3 linked regions of the Homo sapiens genome follow. Each later gene encodes a partner of the first gene's protein in a complex. Each region holds a gene or a part of one and is shown on either strand. Other genes may lie near its edges. The genes, in order: EIF3C, EIF3I and EIF3J.

The links.
Region 2: EIF3C (region 1) and EIF3I share a complex: the UniProt entries of both Homo sapiens proteins name them as parts of the eukaryotic translation initiation factor 3 (eIF-3) complex.
Region 3: EIF3C (region 1) and EIF3J share a complex: the UniProt entries of both Homo sapiens proteins name them as parts of the eukaryotic translation initiation factor 3 (eIF-3) complex.

Annotation. Positions count from the first base shown.
Region 1 is NC_000016.10:28,721,318-28,725,065, forward strand, and holds part of EIF3C (eukaryotic translation initiation factor 3 subunit C), read left to right. Parts: intron 1-1,846; coding exon 1,847-2,006; intron 2,007-2,130; coding exon 2,131-2,234; intron 2,235-2,934; exon of another isoform or gene 2,935-3,004; coding exon 3,005-3,146; intron 3,147-3,340; coding exon 3,341-3,466; intron 3,467-3,601; coding exon 3,602-3,695; intron 3,696-3,748. UniProt on the Homo sapiens protein: Component of the eukaryotic translation initiation factor 3 (eIF-3) complex, which is required for several steps in the initiation of protein synthesis.
Region 2 is NC_000001.11:32,220,794-32,224,541, forward strand, and holds the start of EIF3I (eukaryotic translation initiation factor 3 subunit I), read left to right. Parts: upstream 1-1,613; 5' UTR 1,614-1,648; coding exon 1,649-1,651; intron 1,652-1,744; coding exon 1,745-1,837; intron 1,838-3,240; coding exon 3,241-3,328; intron 3,329-3,616; coding exon 3,617-3,682; intron 3,683-3,748. Other genes in the region: TMEM234 (transmembrane protein 234), read right to left, coding at 338-404, 1,074-1,225, 1,514-1,529. UniProt on the Homo sapiens protein: Component of the eukaryotic translation initiation factor 3 (eIF-3) complex, which is required for several steps in the initiation of protein synthesis.
Region 3 is NC_000015.10:44,539,999-44,543,746, reverse strand, and holds part of EIF3J (eukaryotic translation initiation factor 3 subunit J), read right to left. Parts: intron 1-3,748. UniProt on the Homo sapiens protein: Component of the eukaryotic translation initiation factor 3 (eIF-3) complex, which is required for several steps in the initiation of protein synthesis.

The sequences.
Region 1 (3,748 bases):
ATCCTAAGCAAGGGTATACATCTAGGGCTTTCCATCAGTAGTTGTGGTTGGGAAGGCATGGGAAAATGGTGTGGTCCTCTGCAGTGTAGTTAGGCCTGACTTCCGTTGGTGTCTCTCAATAATGAGTTTTTAGTCTCTTAACTATGTATTAAGTAGAGGTAATACTCGTTTAGAAATGTTGCTTTTATCTGTTGATTATATAGCTGAGGATATAAACATTTGTTATCTGATAATTTCTAACAAGATATGAATATACCAGAGTATAATCTGTCATAGGAGAGGTCAAGCCAAGTCTTAGGTCTTTCAGTTAGAATTTCATACAATAGTACATTTCCCTTTTGAGGTGTGTATCATACTATCTTTAGTGCTAGAAGTAATACTTTAGCCAAGGAAGTTTAAGTTCTTTTGAAGCATTCATTTTAAAAAATAGCTTTAGTTCTTCTGATCTCAGAGCTATACAGATGGTTTGGACCAAGAGGTTTTAGTTTAATGAACATGCTTTGCATATTTGCAAAGGATTTTACCTATAAAGTGAGTCATCATTAGAGTCTTGCAGTGGTACAGGGGAAAGATCCATAAGCTTTTGTTGTTGTTGTTGTTGTTGTTGTTGTTGTTTTTAATAGAGACGGGCTTTTTACCTTGTCACCCAGACTGGTCTCAAACTCCTGGGCTCAAGCAATACGCCCACCTCGGCCTCCCAAAGTGCTGGGATTACAGGCTTGAGCCACCGTGCTTGGCCAGTCCATACACTTTTGTTGAGAGTTATGGCATTGGTCTTCTGGCAAGGGAAGACTTAATTTAACTGGTAAACTTATAGACTATTCCAAAAACATATTCAAACCTTTTAAGCAGTGAAAATGAAATTTATTTATAAATGTTCAAATGGTAGATTATGGTTATTACATATGAGTTTTCAAAAATGTTGAGTCTTTCTGGAAAGATTTATTCTTCAGTATCTGTGCAAAGTTTGAAGTAATTTGTCTTTGCCATTTGGTTTGTATTTTGTTACATAAATACATACTCAAGTCTGGAGATGGTTTCAGGCAACATCCAGTAGCCTAAGACCATTTTAAGGTAGCTGGTGATCTTTTTCTGTTTTGTGGGGACCTTTTTTGTAATGAACATTTTTTTTAAATTCAGAATTTAGATTAATCGGTTGTCAAGAGAGGAGAGAAAGCGATAAAACAGTTTAGGAATAGTAAAAAAGAAAAAAATGTTTTTATATATTTGGGGGAACTGATTCATTGATTAGTTGGTCAGTCTGGAGAAAGCAGCTGGTATCAAAGAAAATAAGTTGTTTGTGGATTCTTTGGAAAACTGTAGATGTTAGCTTTGGAGCAAAATGACAGGTTGGTTTTTTTTTGTTTTGTTTTGTTTTGTTTTTTTGGAGACTGAGTCTTGCTCTGTCACCCCGGCTTAAGTGCAGTGGCATGATTGTGGCTCACTGCAGCCTTCTCTGCCTCCCAAGTTCAAGTGATTCTCGTGCCTCAGCCTCCTAAGTAGCTGGGACTACAGGCGTGCACCACCATGCCTGGCTAATTTTTGTACTTTTAGTAGAGATGGGGTTCCACCATGTTGCCCAGGCTGGTCTTGGATTCCTGACGTCAAGTGATCTACCATGCTTAGCTGACAGGTTGTTTCTATTAATATGTCTACAGTGGCCTGGTTAGTACTCTGTCTTGTTAGAGATGGCTATGGTTATGGTTCACTGTGCCCTCTAGGTCATTGTTGTAGAGCATAACTTGGACCCAGGAGCTGCTGGAGGAAAAGAGGAAGTTGATGGGAGGAAGAAGCCTTAGAGGTGGGGAGGGGCTGATCTGTCATCTTCTCCCATGTCTGTCGGCAGGGCACCCACCACAGATGAGGACAAGAAGGCAGCCGAGAAGAAACGGGAGGACAAAGCTAAGAAGAAGCACGACAGGAAATCCAAGCGCCTGGATGAGGAGGAGGAGGACAATGAAGGCGGGGAGTGGGAAAGGGTCCGGGGCGGAGTGCCGTTGGTTAAGGTGAGGGTTTCAGAGGTAAAATGAATTGGGGAACAGTTTGGGAGGACATAAAGGTCCCCTTGTGGGGAAAAGGCAAGGACAGTTTCCCGCTGGCATGTACATGACGGGATATGTGCTGATACAGGAGAAGCCAAAAATGTTTGCCAAGGGAACTGAGATCACCCATGCTGTTGTTATCAAGAAACTGAATGAGATCCTACAGGCACGAGGCAAGAAGGGAACTGATCGGTAAGATTCGTGGGCCTGGGCAGTGGGATTGCAGGGTGGCAGAGGGTGGAGGTTGGGGGAAGGGATTGTTGGGAGGGTCTGTGTGTGGCTGTAGTAGAGGGAATTGTATGCTTGGGGCATCCCCGTCCATTATCTGCTGTTTACTCTTCTTGTGACTTAAAACCAATCACTTAACGTTTTGGATCTGTTTTCCCATCTATACAATGAGATAATGTTCTCCTCTTTTTTTTTTTTTTTTTTTTTTTGTTTGAGATGGAGTCTCGTTGTTGCCCAGGCTGGAGTGCACTGGCGCGATCTCGGCTCACTGCAACCTTTTTGCCTTCTGGGTTCAACCGATTCTCCTGCCTCAGCCTCCTGAGTAGCTGGGATTACAGGAACCCGCCACCATCCCTGGCTGATTTTGTACTTTTAGTAGAGATGGGGTTTCACCATGTCTCGAACTCCTGACTTCAAGTGATCCGCCTGCCTCAGCCTCCCAAAGTGCTGGGATTACAGGCATGAGCTACCACACCTGGCTTTTTTTTTTTTTAAGATTAAAAAAGTAAAAGAGTGTTTACCTTCTTTAGTTATTAGGTAACAGAGGATGGTGGTAGGTGTGAAGCATTTCACAGCATTCCAGGATGGTTGGGATTATTGTTGCTTCTGTTTGGAATTTATAAAGGAGAAGCAGGGATATGGGTGATGAGGAGGGCGCGTTATCCGAAGCGGGCATGCTGGGAGAGACTTTGTGATTTGTCTCCAAAGCCTCACCCAGCTCTCTGGCCCTCTAGTGCTGCCCAGATTGAGCTGCTGCAACTGCTGGTTCAGATTGCAGCGGAAAACAACCTGGGAGAGGGCGTCATTGTCAAGATCAAGTTCAATATCATCGCCTCTCTCTATGACTACAACCCCAACCTGGCAACCTACATGAAGGTGAGAGCAGTGAAGAGGCTCATCTCAGGGCATCGCTGGTGGGTTGGGGGAAGAAGGTACCTAGCATCTTAAGACTCAGGGGCTATGGAGGCAGTCTTGGTGGTGGAAGGCCCCATGATTCCTGCTGAAGGGGGAGGCATCCGCTTACTCTACCTTCACACCTCTGACTCTGATGTGGCCTGAAATCTTGGCAGCCAGAGATGTGGGGGAAGTGCCTGGACTGCATCAATGAGCTGATGGATATCCTGTTTGCAAATCCCAACATTTTTGTTGGAGAGAATATTCTGGAAGAGAGTGAGAACCTGCACAACGCTGACCAGGTAAAGGGAGGAGTTGGCAGGATAACTGGAGGTGTGTATTTTATGCTTTGGGAAGGCTCAGTGGGACCCGAGGGTTGAGGTTTGAGACTGAGATCTGGGCTAATTTGTTGACTCCTCCTTCGCCTTCCTTTTCAGCCACTGCGTGTCCGTGGCTGCATCCTAACTCTGGTGGAACGAATGGATGAAGAATTTACCAAAATAATGCAAAATACTGACCCTCACTCCCAAGGTGAGCCTGAGCAAGCGTGGGCTTTGCTGAGAGGAAAATTGTGGGGAATATTA
Region 2 (3,748 bases), on another chromosome or scaffold:
TCAAATGGGTGACTTGCTCATGGTCAGGTAGGTAGCACACAGTGGAAGCAAGAATGTGAAAGCCAGCACTTGGCACAGCAAAATGAACCTTCCTTCTTCCTCCGCTGGTCACACATGACTGCCAGGCTTCAAACCAACTCCAGTGCCTAGCAACATACTCATAACCAGCACACTGTGCCCCTCTTGTTCAGAGAAGAGGATAGTAAGAGGGAACTAGAGCTAGTCAGCCCTCTCTCACTGATGGGAATGAGGTGTTTCAAGCTCCACCCCGCCCCCCCCAATCACTCTTCCAGGTGGCCTCAAACACTAAGCAGAACAGTTCCAAGCCAGGACCCACCTGTCGATGCCAAGGTGAGGTAATAGAGAAGGGATCCACACTGGTTGAGGAGAAAGGGCATCAGGTACTGGAAAGAGGAGAAACCTGCAGTCAGTGTGATGGCCTGACTGAGCAGCACTGCCTTCTTTGAGCTCCTAGCGAATGTCTTTCCTTGGAGGGAGGCAGGGTTATAAGGACCCAGAGAACACTAATCCCTCTAAGGAGGATCCTTCCAGGGCAAAGAGGGAAACAGACTGAAGTCTGTGCCTTTGCTCAAACTACCCTCTCCCTCACCTCTGCTAGTTCCCATCCTGCAAGGCCTTGAAGCCAATGTCAGCCCCTCCAGGAAGCCTTCCCCAAGTCCTCCAGCTCCAGCCTTCCTCCTCTGAACTCCTCCCCTGCAGGGCCAATTTGAGCCCCAAGCCCTCCCTCTGGAAAGGCTCACAAATGTTGCCTTATGTAACTGAAGGAATCACAATAAAATGTGAATAATGGCAGCCATAGATTGAGCACTTACTATGTTCTAGGCCTAATGCTAAGTGCTCTACGTATCTCACCTAATTCCTGCAACTGACCTATCAGATGGTTATTATTATAATCGCCATTTACAGATGATGAAACTGAGGCTCAAGGACAACTGACTTTTCCGAGAATTTCTAGTGAGTAAGTGGTGGGGCTGACCCAGACCTGTTTGACTCCAAAGACCAAATTCTTGGCGGCAACTCCACCGAGAGAGGGGCCTTTCACAGAGACGCACCTCAGTATTCAAGAAGAGGGTCTTCATCTCCTGTAGCAACTGCTGGGCCCAGGTCGGCTCATGAACCCGCTGCAGGCCGGCGGAGGCCCGCTTCAGCAGCGGCTGCGTGCCACCCCACAGAGCGGCCACCAGCACCAGAGCCAACACCTGCCCTGAATGCAGACGAGTGAGTCACCCTGACCCCCACCCCAAACGGCCGCCCACCCCGCCCTCTCCTGGCCTTCTAGCCCCAGCTAGCCGCCCCCACTTCCCTCCTTCGCTCTCTTCGCCTCGGCTGCGACTGGCGGCTAAGGCAGGCCCAGGGAAGCTAGGGAGATGAATCCAGGAGTCCGGCCTCTGGGGTTGTAGCAGGGGTCGGGGTTAGAGGGTGGATGTGGAGCAGGAAATGAATTCGAGGCGAGGGTCGGGAAATCCATGGAAGGGCGGGGCCGGCTACCTACCCAGAGACGCCGCCATGGCAACGCCGCTGTCTTCTACTTCCGGGAACGAAGGGGCGGAGACCCATAATCCGGAAGTGACCTCGAAACCTTTTCCGGTCTTACTCACGTTGCGGCCTTCCTCGCGTCACAGCCGGGATGGTGAGTTTCAGAGTTAGGGGTATTGCAGTGGGGGTCCTGGGCTGAGGCTGGGGCCCAATTCCGAGCACTGACGTTACTGTCTTGTCCCCACAGAAGCCGATCCTACTGCAGGGCCATGAGCGGTCCATTACGCAGATTAAGTATAACCGCGAAGGAGACCTCCTCTTTACTGTGGCCAAGGACCCTGTGAGTGTTGGCTGGAGGGGGTCCGGGAGGGGCGGGATCCTTCTGCCAGGACGATGGGTGGACACGCCAGTTTTGCCGTTAGCGGGGAACCAAAGAGCAGCCCATTGTGAGAAGTAGGGAGAGGCCATGCCGGGGGTAGGTTGGCGAAAGTATTCTACCGGGAAAGGTGGGGAAGAACTCTATTGGCCGAGTGCGGTGGCTCACGCCTGTAATCCCAGCACTTTGAGAGGCCGAGGTGGGAGGGTCGCTTGAGCCCAGGAGTTGGAGACCAGCCTGAGCAACGTAGTAAGACCCATCTCTACACACAAAAAAATTAGCCTGACATGGTGGCCTCGCGCCTGTGGTCTCAGCTACTTCGGAGTCTGAAACGAGAGGATCGCTTGAGCGCGGTGAGCTGAGATCGTGCCACTGCACTCCAAGAAAAGCAAGAGACCACTGTGGAAAGGGGATAAAGATGAGGGTCAGCTTGCCCAGAGAACGGGATGCGACCTTTAGGGATAATCTAATCTTTCTACCAGGATAGGTGCAGGCTGTGTTATTCAGACACAGGGAACTTAATGAGGGTGTCTCTAGTCTCATTTTAAGTCAATCCCATCCTGCTACTCAATGCCAAACAATCCCTCATGATACTGCCTTTTGAGGCACCTGGCCATTTTATTTTATTTTTTCTTGAGACGGAGTCTCGCTCTGTCGCCTAGGCTGGAGTGCAGTGGCGCGATCTCGACTCACTGCAACCTCTGCCTCCCAGGTTCAAGCGATTCTCCTGCCTCAACCTCCCTAGTAGCTGGGACTACAGGCTCGTGCCACCATGCCCAGCTAATTTTTTGTATCTTTAGTAGAGATGGGGTTTCACCATGTTGGACAGGCTTGTCTTGAACTCCTGACCTCAGGTGATCCGCCTGCCTCGGCCTCCCAAAGTGCTAGGATTACAGGCATGAGTCACCACACCCGGCCTGGCCATTTTCAAGATGAGAAAACTGAAGTTCAGAGGAGAGAAGCACTGTATTTGAGATCATATAGTGAGACAGTGGCAGAGCAGGCACCAGAACCCAGACTTCCTTACTACCAGCTGCTCCCACTTGGATAAGACATCAGAGATACTGTTTTTCTGGACTGGAGCTCAACTTGGCCTTTTATTCTTTGGAGCCGTTGGGAGTCCCAGGAGAGCTGGAGCTAACAAATGAGGATGCCTTTACAAGCCGCCTGACTCCTCTGTTGCTTCCCTTCAGGAAGGGAGGAGAATCCAGGAGTTGGTCTTTTTACCAGCTCCCTGCTGTTTCCCAAGAAATAAACAGAAGAGGGCAGAATCAGCCTTGCTACAGGCTGCTGAGGGTTCCTGGGGCAAAATAGGAAGCCATTGCTCTTACTGGGATGTGTACTATCCTGTGGTTTGACTTTTCCAGATCGTCAATGTATGGTACTCTGTGAATGGTGAGAGGCTGGGCACCTACATGGGCCATACCGGAGCTGTGTGGTGTGTGGACGCTGACTGTATCCTTATTTTGGGTCTGAGTCCGTGTTGCTAGGGTCTGTCAGCGATGGAGAGGCTGAGTTGGGAGTTGGGAGTTGGGGGTGCTGTTGAGGGCCTAGAGAACGATACCTCCTACTCCCTGGTCTCTTCACTGACTGAGGAAACATTCAGGACAAATTCCAGTTCTGGATAAGGAGGTAAGAGGGGTAGAAAGGCTCTTTGGGGCTGAACAGGGAGATGATTCACTTGGCATCCCAAGAGGACAAGGGCTCGGGTGAACTTCGTCATATTTCTTAACAACTCTTCAGGGGACACCAAGCATGTCCTCACTGGCTCAGCTGACAACAGCTGTCGTCTCTGGGACTGTGAAACAGGTAAGCTGGGTTCATTCACCTTTTTAGCAAATATTGAGGACCTACAGTGTACCTGTTTGAGTAAAC
Region 3 (3,748 bases), on another chromosome or scaffold:
ACAGAATGGATTTTAGTAGCAAAAGAAGTGATTCTGGCCAGGCGTGGTGACTCATGCCTGTAATCCCAGCACTTTGGGAGGCCAAGGCAGGCAGATCACGAGGTCAAGAGATCGAGACCATCCTGGCCAACATGGTGAAACCCCATCTCTACTAAAAATACAAAAATTAGCTGGGTGTGGTGGCGCACACCTGTAGTCCCAGCTACTTGGGAGGCTGAGGCAGGAGAATCGCTTGAACCCAGGAGGCGGAGGTTGCAGTAAGCCGAGACTGCGCCACTGCCCTCCAGCCTGGAGACAGCGAAACTCCATCTCAAAAAAAAAAAAAAAAAGTGGTTCCTATCAACATGTACCAAGAAGAGCCATGACATCTGCTCCTCAATTCATAAAAGGACCATCCAAACCTTGACTGTCACTCTCTCCCCAAAGTGCTTACAAGTCTGCCCTGAAGTTACTACCAAACTAGCACTAAGCCCCTAAAGAAAGGAGCATAGTAAGTGTCAGCAAAAAGAGACTGGTCACACTTCCAAACAGATGTAATTATAAAAGCAAAAGGCCAGGTAGCTTTCCCCAGGAAGTTAGAGTTTTTGTTTCCATAGTTATAAAATTAAGTGTCTGAAAAGTAGATTTAAGGTAGAATGTTCACCACGCTGCTTCAAAAAATATGCCCAATTTTTTGTAAACATTAGAAGTTTGTAAATTCCAGCAGCAAATTCAGATAAAATGTAAAAAGGCTTCCTAGAGAAACAGCTAAAATTAACACTTAAAATAGGGAGCAAGTCTACAACTCACTTCAAAGAGCCCTAAATGGTTATTTGGTTCAAGAGACTACCTATGAACATCCAATTAAATCCTTTACCCAATTATTTTTGGTAGCCAATTAATCTTTCAACTATAATATCCAATTTATCTTCAAAAGAATCACCCAGGCTGCTCTCCTAAAATGGCTAGCTTCTTAGAATAGGGCCTGTTTATAAACTACTTGCTTATCTATACTCTTGCCCTGCAGATACACACCCATCATTTAAGCTATTTCTATGAAAGAGATGGCTGCTTTTTAACTTTAAAACTTGCTTCCCTAATTGAACACAACTAAGTATCAGAAGCAAAGCAGAAAACTTTATATCTTGCTTTCTTTTTATTTCTAACAATGTGGCCAGTAGTTAGCTGGTTCTGTCTTCATAATATAAAACTACATTATGTCACATGCAATGAGAACACATTTAGGGCTGAAAATGCTTTCCAACTTAAGCAAGATGTATTTATAGATTGTCAAATAGAAGTAGCTTCAAACGAGCAATAAAACTCTTTTGCCCTATAGCAACAGCCTAGGAACTAACATATACTCCTTCTCCTTTTTTCTTTAAATAATTTGGTTTAGGTAAAACATAATCTCTTGCTGGGAAAGAAAAAAAAAGCCTTTAATTTGTGTTCTGTAAGCTGTGCAGTTCTGAGAGAACTCAGAACTGTGCAACGAGATCTTGGCAAGGGTAGACTTCCCAGCAAAGTTCAGTTTTTTAAAAGCCAAAATGTTCTTCCACCATCTCAGAACTATGCTGGGTGCCTAGAAGCCAAGGTGCCTGCCTTAGTAAATTCTACTTCATTTAATTCAATTCATTAAGCTTTTAACATACTACAATGGATCAGCACTCAGCTGAGTTCCATCTCAATGCCTACCTGTCTCATATTCAGGACAGTTATCAATCTACTTTAAATTTCTGGCTCAGCGATATCAAGACACTGAACACTAAACAAGTGGTTTATTTACAATGATCCATCATGACAAGAAAATATTTTTCAATAACAAACATGCTTCCTAATTCAAAACTTGCTAGTTTATAAAAGTGGCAGGGTATGAAATGATATGATTGAGATTTTCTTGAAAATAATCTGGTTGGAGGAGGAAAGTGGGGATACAGAGGAGACAAGACTGGTCACTGGTTTATTAAATGTTTCTCTCTACTGCATGTTTGGAATTTTTCTTAAGTTACACATACACACACTCTCTTCAAAATACCCATTTTCTGGCAAAATGCCCACCTTCTGGGTATTTCCTAGTAATTTCACATTCTGTAAAATACAGATCCTGTTCTTTAGAAGTTGTTTCCAACCCCTGAAAATTGTCCCTATCTGGTAGATTCAAACTATTTATTGGAATAGGATCCTAACAGAGAGTGAATGAGTAGGACGAGAGAGGCTCAACTAAATCTGTTCTTCAGGATCGCTCTCTCTTTAAATGTGTTGGGGTCTTGCTATGTTGCCCAGGCTGGCTTCAAACTCCTAGGCTCACGCAATCCTCTTGCCTCAGCCTCTTCAGGATCTTTTAAAAGAAATGCTATATGGTTACAGAGGCAAATGCGTGAGATGGCTGAACACAGCTATAAGTTTCTGCAAACTCTGTACCCTTTGAATAAATCTAGCTTCTAAACTGTTCTACTGAAATGCTAGGAGACTAGTAAAATGGAGCAAAAGTTATGTTGTCCTTGTGTCCAGTAGGTACTCACTGCCTTCTCAGTCAACACATCCTACATATCATACCAGCAATGAGGAAGGAGTCATATATGCCAAGTGAACAATTCTTCCCACTACCTCTGCACAACTATCAGGATAGTAAAAAAGGTAAATAAAGCCAGGGTGATGGGAAACTATGCTCCCGAGTTCTCATCTTTTTAACTGGGGAAAAGCATAGTCTTTTCTTGCCATATATATTAACGGTTGTACAGTTTCACCTAAGTCCACTTCTGCCACTGCCAGACAGCTATTTGAAAAGTCAAGGACAGCAAAATACTAAGTCTACTAAATGAGAGTAAAGTGCTGGAGCAAATTATAATAACAAAAACATCAGTTTTCCTTTCATTTCCCAGGACATTACAAATGACATTAAACCTGTATTTTTAAAGGTTAAGTACTAGATGCTGACATGAACAGAAGACCTCACGGAAACTAAGCCTTGTCTGCAACTCCTCATAAAAAGTACAAAAACATAAGAATTCAGAAATTTGGTGATATGGCTGAGTCTGCTGGCTCACGCCCATAATCCCAGCATTTTAGGAGGCTGAGGAGGATAGATCACTTGACTCCAAGAGTTCGAGACCAGCCTGGGCAACTTGGCGAAACTCTATCTCTACCAAAAACACAAAAATTAGCCAGTCTCACAAATCTGTCTCAAAATAAATAGGCCAGGTGCAGTGGCTCACACCTGTAATCTCAGCACTCTGGGAGGCCAAGGCGGGAAGATCGCTTTAACCTCAGGAGTTTGAGACCAGCCTGGGCAACTTGGCGAAACTCCACCTCTACCAAAAACACAAAAATTAGCCAGTCTCACAAATCCGTCTCAAAATAAATAGGTCAGGTGCAGTGGCTCACATCTGTAATCCCAGCACTCTGGGAGGCCGAGGCGGGAAGATCACTTTGACCTCAGGAGTTTGAGACCAGCCTAGGTAACATGGCGAAACCCTGTATCTACAAAAAAAAAAAAAAAATATATATATATATATATATATATATATATATAGCCAGGCGCGGTGGCTCACGTCTGTAATCCCAGCACTTTGGGAGGCCGAGGCGGGTGGATCACGAAGTCAGGAGTTCAAGACCGGCCTGGCCAAGATGGTGAAACCCCGTCTCTACTAAAAATACAAAAATTAGCTGGGTGTGGTGGTGGGCGCTTGTAATCCCAGCTACTCGGGAGGCTGAGGCAGAGAACTGCTTGAACCTGGGAGGCGGAGGTTGCAGTGAGCCAAGATCGTGC